2 separate regions of the Homo sapiens genome follow, and region 2 is linked to region 1. Evidence: fine-mapped expression QTL. A gene starts in region 1. The other region holds a variant in brackets. All regions are shown on one strand. Distances are between the middles of the regions.

Region 1 (5,371 bases):
CCAGAGCTGGAAATATTCGAGTTTGGAAAGTCCCGGAGCAGAGCCGCATTTGCAACACGGCCATCCTGCTTTAGGGATGAATTGAAACTGGAAAGAGAGTAGTACCAATGAGAGTGAGAAAGGGAAGACGAGGATGCAGCCTGGTCCAGAACCTCTGGAGCCCGGGGGGAAACAGGTTGGCATCACATCCGCGCCACCAAGTCGCAGGCCCGCGGCAGAGCGTTGCGCTCACCCTTGAAGGTGGCACTACAGAGCCACCCAGGAAACACGGACTTTTCATTGAAGACAAAATGAATCAAGGAGCCTGCGTGTGGGCAGCTTCCAAAGCCTCCAGTGAGTGTGGGAGTAGGGATCAGAGCCTCACGGCGCTCTGGGTTGCTGAGTGTGGGGGTGATGGTGAAACAAAATGCAGAAAAGGTAAAAATTGAAGAAGCAGAGTTAAAAGTAGCTAGCGGTCTGGCCTAAGAGACAGGAAGTGGCCCAGACTGAGACTGAAGAGGGCTGGACCAGGGGGAAGTGAAGAGAGCAGGACTGGGAGCAGCTACAAGATAGGATTGAGGAATTTCAGGCTGAAGGAAAGAAAGGGTGGAGGCCTCGCCAGACAGCAGCGAGGGGGCGGGGCTAGGCAGGAATGAGGGCGGGGCTTGAAAGTGAGGGGCGGGGCTAGGGGAAGAAGGGAGGAGGACGGTGTGGGGGGGTGAGGGAGAAACGAAAGAGGATGGGGGAGTGAGAAGAGGGTGGGTGGGGGCAGGAGGGGAGAAGCAAGGGGGCAAGTGGAAGGGGAGGTAGCAAAATAGCTTGGAAGTGGTGGGAAAGACCAGGAGGATGAGGGGAGGGAGCAGGTGGGAGGGAAAACAGGAAAGCAAGAGAGATGATGGGAAAGTGGTGAGAAGTGAGGGATGGGACCAGGGGAACAGAGGCAAGGCCAGGAGGGAAAAGCGAGGGGGCAGGTGGGCGGAGAGGATGGGAAGCGAGGAGAAGGAGGGAGGGGGTAAAAACGGCGGAGGAGAAAAAAAGGAGAGAAGCAAGGGGGCGGGACCAGGAAGAAGTGAGGGCCGATGCTAGGAAAGAAGTGAGGAGGCGGGACCAGGAAGAAGTGAGGGCCCAGGCTAGGAAAGAAGTGAGGAGGCGGGACCAGAGAGAAGCGAGGGAGCTGGACGCAGGGAGAAGCGAGGGGGCGGGGACAGAAAGTTAGGAGGCGGGAGCAGAGAGGAGCGAGGGGGTGGGGCCAGAGAGATGGGCGGGGTCAGGTTTGGGGAGGAAAGGTGGGGAAGAGAAAGGACCACAGGGATGGAGGTGAAAGGCAAGGGGGCGGGGCCTGGGGGGAGAAGCGAGGGGTCAGGTGCTAGGGAGAGGAAGGGAAGCGAGAGGCAAGGGGCCGAGCCGGGGAGAGGTGAGGGGAAAGGGCCTGGAAGGAGATGCAAGGGGCGGGGCCAGGAAAAGAGAAGCGAGGGGCGGGGCCAGGGAAGGAGATGCAAGGGGCGTGGCCATGAATGGAAATGAGAGGGGCGGGGCCAGGACGGAGATGCGAGGGGGCAGGTGCGGGGGAACGGGAGGGAACGCGAGACCGAGGGGGCGCGAGCGGCCAGGGGGCGGGGCCGGGCAACGGCGAGGGGGCGGGGCCAGGAGGGAGAAGCGAGGGGCGCACGCCGAAGGGGGTGACGAGGTCCTGGGACAACGGCCGGCGTGGGGGAGGGCCGCTTCCAAGGGCGCCCTGCGGGGAATTCCGGGGCGGGCGAGGGGGCGCCGGGGCGCGGGTGGGCCTCCCGCCGGCCGTACCTGTCAGACGGATCTTGATGCTGGAGCCGTTCCTGCGTGTCCCGGGGTTCGACATCTCCCGCCAACGATCGGGCAGCCGCGGATCCAGCGCCACCGCCCCCCAGCCCGGCCCGGCCCGGCCCCGCCGCCGCCGCCTCAAGGTTACGGCTCCGGGCTGGGCGCCGGGGTCCGAGCCGGGACACAAACTCCGCGGCCCAGGCGTCCGGGCGGCAGGCGGATGGTCGAGCCGGGAGATCGGCGCTTGCTGCGGCGCTCTGACCCTCGCTGCTTCCAGCCGAGCCCAGTCCCGAGCCGCCGCCGCCTCCGCCGCCGCCTCCGCCGCCTCCACCACCTCAGAGCCGGACGCCCGCCGCCCTCGCCGCTTCCGCCGCTGCCGCCGCCTCTCCGAGCCGCGCGCGCGCCCGCCGCCGTGCCGGCCCGGCCCTGCGCGCCCCCGCGCCTGCGTGCGTGCGCGCCCCCGCCACGTACGCTGGGGCGGGGCGGGGTGCGCTGCTACGTCGCCCGCACGCCTGCCTCGGGCGCGCGGGGCCCGGATCCCGCGGGTTGGGGTCTTCACCCTTCCTGTGGTCGGTGGGTGGGAGGGTCTGGCCCCGAGCCCGGGAAGGGAGAGCAGAGCTGGCCCCGGGACCCAGCGCGCGGTCGCCCTCTGTCTTGACCCCTGTCTCTGCGAGGCTCTGGGCTCCTGAGTGACTGAAGAGTGGTTTGCATGAAACCGTGGGCTGTGTCCACACCAAGCTCCTTGCACACAGGCGTGCAATACCAGTTTTTTTCAGTTAAGAGCTTTCGATCGTGCAAGTTCAAGGGAGGGACTTCTCAAAGAGACAAAGCCCTTAGGTGTGTTCTGTGCAACGGGTGTGCTCCACTGACCCATAACAAAGTTGCCAGAATCGCAGAAGTGCCATATACGGACAAGGAAAACGAGATGAGAGGGAGGGATAAAGTTGAGAGGCGGATGTTTGTTATTATCCATTCTGCATACAATTTTACCAAACAAGAAAGTGGCATTGTGGTTTGTGTTCCCATGTCTTCTGCTAAATTTCCCCTTCTCCCGGGGTTGCAGGTTAGAACCAAAAGCTCATGGCTGGGTACGGTGGCTGTAGCCTGTAATCCCAGCACTTTGGGAGGCCGAGGCGGGCGGATCACTTGAGCCCAGGACTTTGAGGCCAGCCTGGGCAACATAGGGAGACTCCATCTCTACAAAAAATACAAAAATTAGCTGGGCATGGTGGTGCGCGCCTGTAGTCCCAGGTACTGGGAGGCTGAGGTGGGAGGATCACTTGAGCCCCAGAGTTCATGGCTGCAGTGAGCTATGATCAGGCCACTGCACTACAGCCTGGGTGACAGAGCTAGACACTGTCTCAAAACACACACACACACACACACACACACACACAGAAAAAGCTCATTATGCGCTTTCTCCAGCAAACAAACTCCTCTCTGTTAGCATGTTATAGAAATAAACTGGTATTATTAGAAAGAGGGAAAACTAGGTTTATCAAACTTGTTTTTTACCCACTACCTTGTTGTTGTTGTTGTTGTTTTTTGAGACAGGGTCTCACTCTGTCACCCAGGCTGGAGTGCAGTGGCACGGTCTTGGCTCACTGCAACCTCCACCTCCCAGGTTCAAGTGATTCTCGTGTCTCAGCCTCCTGTATAGCTGGGATTACAGGCGTTAGCCACCACACCCAGCTAATTTTTGTATTTTTGGTAGAGATGGGGTTTCGCTGTTTTGGCCAGGCTGGTCTCAAACTTCTGAGCTCAGGTGATCTGCCCGCTTCAGCCTCCCAAAGTGCTGGGATTTCAGGCCTAAGCCACCGCTCCCAGACCCCACTACCCATTTTCATGTACAAGTTCTTTTTTATTTTTATTTGATTCTTCATCAATCAACTTGAACAAATTCTTTTAATACTGTGTGTGTGTGTGTGTGTGTGTGTGTCCCAAGGAAAGTAGGCTCTGGGCCATTGCTACCATCCCCTGCAGCCTTGTGCCTGTCCTAAGGTCACAGTCTTCGGAACAGAGCCTTCTACCTAGAGCGCCTAGACATACCTGCCTGCCTGCCCGCCTGCCTGCCTGCCTGCCTGCCTCGGATGACCCTAGTGAAAGCAGAGTCTCTCCTGGGCAGGATTCAAGGCATCACATCTGTCAAATAAAAGGATGGTCCTAGGTCATTTCTATGGCACCTTGCGGCTCTTTCAGTTATCCTCAAGAAAGACCCAAGAATATAAGCAATGTTTAAGCAATAGCAGTAGAGCCACAATCCAGCTGTTTCCATTTGTAGATGATTGTCACAGAGAGTGAATGCCTGGGTCTGAATTAATCCATCCAGTCTCTAATGCTCCCAAGTAATCCCCATTCTTCTGCCAATCCCGTTAGTATTTCCCCCCTATTCAAAGAGTCTCCTCTCTAAACAAAACCAGACATCACTCTCTGCTTACCTGGGTGCAGGCTCCTGTTCTTATCCCCAGGTGTTCCTGACCTGGAAACCTTTCATTGCTTAATTTTGTTGTTTTTCTCCCCGCCCCGACGGCTGGTTCTTCGTTGGCTTGACTGTTTCCTTAATCTTTGAGTCAGGAGGTTGCTTCTGGAGGTTTCTGAAAGGCATTTTGTTCATTCATTAACAAGTACAGATGCTCCTTGATGTACAATGGGGTTACATTCTGATAAACCCATAATATGTTGAAAATATGTCAAAAATGCATTTGCGGAGGCCGGGCATGGTGGTTCATGCCTGTAATCCCAGCACTTTAGGAGGCTGAGGTGGGGGGATTACCTGCGAGCAGGAGTTCGAGACCAGCCTGGCTAACATGGTGAAACCCTGTCAACTAAAAATACAAAAGTTAACTGGGTGTGGTGGTGTGCACCTGTAGTCCCAGCTACTCGGGAGGCTGAGGCACAAAAATCACTTAAACTCGGGAGGCAGAGGTTGCAGTGAGGCGAGATTGTGCCACTGCACTTCAGCCTGGGCAATAGAGCGAGACTGTGTCTTAAAAAAAAAAAAAAAAAAAAAAAAAAAAAAAAAAAAACAACGGAAAATGCATTTACTACACCTAAGCTACCAGCCATTATAGCTTAGCCCAGCCTACCTTAAATGTGCACAGAACACTTTCATTACCATACGGTGGGGCAAAATCATCTAACACAAAGCCTATTTTACGATAAAGTTATTATAAAGAATTTTGAATCAAAATTCGAAATTTGAAGTGTGGTTTCTACTGAATGTGTGTCGCTTTCCTACCATAACATCAAAAAATCGTAAGTCAAACCGTCATAAACTGGGACCATTTGAAATTGCTAGATATACCCAATAGTATCTTTCACCACAGCTGCACAAAGGGGACCTTCCTACCTGGAAGCTCATGTTTTACTCATTCGGCAAACATTGGCCACCTGCTATGTGGCTAGGAACAAGGAATACAAAATAAATCTATTACAGCTTCAGCATTCCAGAGGGTCAGTTAACTGGATGAAACAGACATGAGCAACTGACAATGATACAGTGATGGGGATGTGTATAGCAGGCTAGAACATAGATGACAGAACAATTCTACATAAGAAGAGAAATGGAGACATCTCGAGTCACAGATGATCTTAA
Region 2 (5,371 bases), 27 kb after region 1:
TGCTCTTACTTGGTGTTCATCTTTACCGCTTTGGGACTTGTTTCCTTATTTTTTCTTTTTTAAGAGATAGGGTCTGGCTCTGTCCCCCAGGCTGGGGTGTGGTGGCAGGATCATGGCTCACAGCTGCCTCAACCTCCTGGGCTCAAGTGATCCTCCCACCTCAGGCTCCCAAGCAGCTAGGGACTGCCCCATCCAGCTAATTTTTTTAAATTTGTAGAGATGGGATCTTGCTATGATGCCTAGGCTGGTCTCAAACTCCTGGCCTCAAACGATTCTTCCACCTCGGTCTCCTGAGTAGCTGGGACCACAGGTGCACACCACTACACCCGGCTGTGTTTCCTTACCTTTGACATGGAGGCACCGCCACCCACTTCAAAGAACTTTAAAGTACATCTAGCCCTTGACATTAGTTTCCTTCCAATCCTGAACTCTCCATTAATGTAACCACGGTGGCTCACACCTGTAATCCCAGCACTTTGGAGGCCAAGCCAAGGTGGGTGGATCACAAGGTCAAGAGATTGAGACCATCCTGGCCAACATGGTGAAACCCCATCTCTACCAAAAATACAAAAATTACCTGGCCGTGGTGGCACACGCCTGTAATCCTAGCTACCCGGGAGGCGGCGGTTGCAGTGAGCTGAGATCGCGCCACTTCACTCCAGCCTGGCGACAGAGAGACTCCCTGTCTCAAATAAATAATTTTTTAAAATAATGTAAACTGAAACAATTTTATTGGAATTTTAGCCCCCAGGCTGAAAGCTTGGCAGGTCCCTGAGAAGGTAGGTGTAAGGACTCTGGACTTGGGGAGGACAGCATCTGAGGGAGCAAAACTGAGAAAAATGAGTATTTTGCTTACTGAACAACCTGACCTTGGCTGGGTACAGTGGCTCACGCCTGTAATCCCAACACTTTGGGAGGCCGAGGTGGGCAGATCACTTGAGGTCAGGAGTTCAAGACCAGCCTGGCCAACATGGTGAAACCCTATCTGTACTAAAAATACAAAAATTAGCCAGGCATGGTGGGGCACGCCTGTAATCTCAGCCACTCAGGAGGCCGACAGGAGAATCGCTTGAACCTGGGAATGGAGGTTGCAGTGAGCTGAGATTGCACCACTGCACTCCAGCCTGGGCGACAGAGCATGATTCCATCTCAAAAATAGATAAATAACCTGACCTTGTTCCTGTGCCCTGCCCAGAGAATGGAAGGAGGGAAGCATAAGTCTCACAAATGAATGGTTGAAGGACTCCTCTTTAGGAAAACTAACCAGCCCATGAAAAAAGATCTGCAGCTCTGGGCCAGGCGCAGTGGCTCACGCCTGTAATCCCAGCACTTTGGGAGGCCGAGGTGGGCGGATCACTTCAGGTCAGGGATTCAAGACCATCCTGGTCAACATGGTGAAACCCTGTCTCTACTAAAAATACAAAAATTAGCCGGGCATGGTGGCTTGTACCTGTAATCCCAGCTACTTGGGAGGCTGAGGCAGGAGAAGTCACTTGAACCCAGGAGGCGGAGGTTGCAGTGAGCAGAGATTGTGCCACTGTACTCCAGCCTGGGTGACAGAACAAGACTGTCTCAAAAAAAAATCTGCAGCTCTGATCGTTGGGATCACTTGTTGGAATGGCCAGGTTTCTGTGGGGTCACCCAGCAGATATCCACCAATGACAGGCCCCGCTCACAGCCTGAGGACCTTTCTATTACAAGCAGAGATCCAAGGACATCAGACATCTGATGGAAGCCTTTGCCATAGGCACACCAAACTAACAACAAACACCCCCCCAAGAATCAATGCATAAACAAAGCTAGGTCGATAGCACAGATAGGATCTTGCGCTAATGAAGAAGGAGGCTTGAAAAGGGAAGCCTGTGAAAACAAAGTGTCTCGAATTAAGTGACTGCAGAAATGAAAAGCCTGGAAGAAGAGATAAAGTAGAATACCCCAGAAAGTAAAAAATAAAGATGGAAAATAGAGAATGGGACAAGAAAATGAGAGGATCCGTTTCAGTGGGAAAAAAAAATGGTGGTGGCAGGGGAGATAATTCTATTTTTTTCTTTTTCTTTTTAGAGATGGGGTCTTGCTATGTTGCCCAGGCTGGTCTCAAACTCCTGGACTCAAGGGGTCCTCCCACCTCAGCCTCCCAAAGTGCTGGAATTATAGGCGTGAGCCACTGTTCCAAGCTGTTTTTTAAAAATTAAAAGGACAATTCTAGACTGCAAGGCTGATACTTGGATGTACAGAAAATAGGTTTCTATTCAGGACAGCACATTTAAGAATACTGGAGACACAACCTACAAATTTCAGTCAGTAGAGTTGAGACAGGGGAAGAGAGTCATGCACAAAATAATTGGCAATCAGAGTAGAAGACTTTGAACCCAACACTGAAAACTAGAAGATAATGATCGATGCTTGCAACATTCTGAAGGTCATAGTTTCCAGTCTAGAACACTTGTCTGCAGCTGGATTGTCAACCAGGAGTCAAAACAAAGTCCATGTTTTCAAAGGCCAGGTGCGGTGGCTCACACCTGCAATCCCACTGAGGTCAGGAGTTCAAGACTAGCCTGTTCAACATGGTGAAACCCCGTCTCTACTAATAAAAAAAATACAAAAATTAGCTGGGCGTGTTCGCGGGCGCCCGTGATCCCAGCTACTCGGGAGGCTGAGGCAGGAGAATCGCTTGAACCCGGGAGGTGGAGGTTGCAGTGAGCCAAGATCGTGCCACTGCACTCCAGTCTGGGTAACAGAGCAAGACTCTGTCTCAAAAATAAAAATAAAAAATAAAGTACATGTTTTTGGATGAGCAGTGTCTGAAATTTAACCTCCCATGCACCTTCTCTCAGAAGATACATATTAAAAGCCAGTGGGTCTCAGTGGCTCACGCCTGTAATCCCAACACTTTGAGAAGCCAAGGCAGCAGGATCGCTTGATCCCAGGAATTCAAG[G/T]TCAGCTTCCCTGTTTCCTGGATCCCATGCCTACCTCCTCATGCGATCGTTTGTTTTGGAGATGGGGTCTCACTTCATAGCCCAGGCTGGAGTGCAGTGGCACCATCATAGCTCACTGCAGCCTCCAACTCCCTGGCTCAAGCAATCCTCTCGCCTTGGCTTCCCAAAGCCAAATTAATTAAAATTTTAAAAGCCAAATTAATTAAACAATTAGCTGGGCATAGTGGCACACATCTGTAGACCCAGCTACTCAAGAGGCTGAGGCGGGAGGATTGCTTTAGCAAGGCTGCCCTGAGCTGAGCTGTGATGGTTCCACTGCACTCCAGCCTGGGCGACAGAGTAAGACCTTGTCCCTAAAATAAAGGGGAAAACAAGCACAGGCAGGTGTGAGATCCTGCAAACAGGGACACTGACCCAGGAAAAGTGAGTGGAGCCCCCACAATGATGGTAAAAGCCGATCCCAGGACAATAGACGTGTACCAGAGGATGAGGACAACTATTCCAGGCTGGAGCATGACAGAGCTCTCCAGTGGGTGTGGATGACAAGCATGTTGGTAGATTACTGACGTATTACATTCAGCAGGAGGTTTACACAGGCTGTAAGAATTTGATATGAGGTAAACCCAAGGAAAACAAAGCATATGAGTGAAGATGTGGATTAATACTAAGGAAAACACACTTCTGAATATAATTTACATCATTATGATAAAATCTGGACATCAAGCTAACAAAAATTAGATATCTACGATGCGAAGAAAGGGAGGTATAAAAAAATGGCTATCTCTTCTGTAAATTCGAACATCGTCTTTAGATGTAGCATGAGCATAATGTTTAGAATTACAAAAGCATAGACTAGAATAAACAGACCAAAGAGTAGAAAGTTCTGGCCTCTGGGGATGGGGTGGAAGAGGCATGGGTCCTCCTTTGCTTTAAATATCTATAGCTCTGTAAAATATGTACATTGTATCAAAGTTCATTTAAGTTATAAAAATTAAGTATACAAGAAAGTCATGGTTCAAAAATAATATGTAGGCCAGGTGCGGTTGCTTATGTCTGTAATCCCAGCACTTTGGGAGGCTGAAGTGGGAGGACCATTTGAGGCCAGGAGTTCAAGACTAACCTGACCATAGTAAGACCCCATCTCTACAGAATTCTTTAAAAGGTTAGCTGCATGTGGTGGTGCTGCCTTGAAATATAGAAACACACACGCACTCTCTTTCTTTCTAGGAAGAATAAGAGAGATTGAGTTTCTAGAGAAAATTATCTTAGATCTTGTCAGTGTCAGGATATTAATTGCCAGAGGAAAGAAGGCCAGTAACACTGTCCCTGCAGCACTAAGAACCAATGATATTGTATCTGCAAGTCGAAGTCTGTGTAGAGACCAGGCATGTTGGCTCACGCCTGTAATCCCAGCACTTTAGGAGGCTGAGACATGTGGATCACCTGAGGTCATGAGTTTGAGACCAGCCTGGTCAACATGGTGAAACCCTGTCTCTACCAAAAATACAGAAATTAGCCCAGCATGGTGGCAGGCACCTATAGTCCCAGCTATTTGGCAGGAGAGGCAGGAAAATCACTGGAACCTGGGAGACGGAGGTTGCAGTGAGCCTAGATCACATCACTGCACTCCAGCCTGGGTGACAAGACCGAAACTCCATCTCAAAAAAAAAAAAAAAAAAAAAAGAAAAAGAAAAAGTCTGTCCGGATAACTATAAGACCATTCTACTCTGTCTTGAAGGTTTTGCTTTAAGACCTTTTAAAAGGCAATTACTAAACAAATGTTCTTTATTTTTTATTATTTTTTTTGAGAAGGAGTTTCACTCTTGTTGCCCAGGCTGGAGTACAATGGCTCCATCTCAGTTCACTGCAACCTCCGCCCTCCTGGGTTCAAGCAATTTTCCTGCCTCAGCCTCCCAAATAGCTGGAATTACAGGCATGCGTCACCATGCCTGGCTAATTTTTTGTATTTTTAATAGAGACGGAGTTTCACTGTGTTGGCCAGGCTGGTCTCAAACTCCTGACCTCAGGTGATCCACCCACCTTGGCCTCCCAAAGTGCTGGGATTACAGGTGTGAGCCACCACACCCAGCCTAAACAAATGTTCTTAGGAGATGAATTCCACATGGTTTTAAGATGCAAGTCGTTTATCTGAAGTTCAGATAGAGAAACGTGAAAGTGTTGAACATTTTATTAATGTCAAGTTTTAAAAGCTTCACATTTGGGTTACACTAAGATAGAGGACTGCTGCTTCTTAAAGAAGTTATCCTTTAGCACTGGGTTGTTGGTTTAGGAGGTAGGGAGCTTGGCTATTTTTTTGCTAAGCATTCATAATCTATAAATTCATAATCTTGGTCTATGACTTGGCTCAGTAAAGTTTGGCTCTCATCTTCTTCCTTCAGGAGAGAATAGACACTGTTATACCTCCAGGATTCTCA

What was found. PIP is the estimated chance that this variant, and not a neighbour inherited with it, causes the effect.
Region 2: its variant is fine-mapped to the expression of SMURF1 in whole blood (TOPMed, PIP above 0.99).

Annotation. Positions count from the first base shown.
Region 1 is chr7:99,141,947-99,147,317 of GRCh38, forward strand. It overlaps SMURF1 (SMAD specific E3 ubiquitin protein ligase 1), which reads right to left and starts at 2,162. Exons shown (of 18, transcript NM_181349.3): 1 at 1,780-2,162. The coding sequence starts at 1,834. It also overlaps a transcript of KPNA7 not described here. RefSeq lists silencers at 1,344-1,393, 1,454-1,783, 1,924-2,423.
Region 2 is chr7:99,168,466-99,173,836 of GRCh38, forward strand. It overlaps KPNA7 (karyopherin subunit alpha 7), which reads right to left. Exons shown (of 11, transcript NM_001145715.3): 11 at 5,107-5,329. The coding sequence ends at 5,243. Among named protein-coding and RNA genes, the nearest start is that of SMURF1, 27 kb to the left of the region's middle. The variant G/T (reference allele first, on the strand shown) is at 2,937.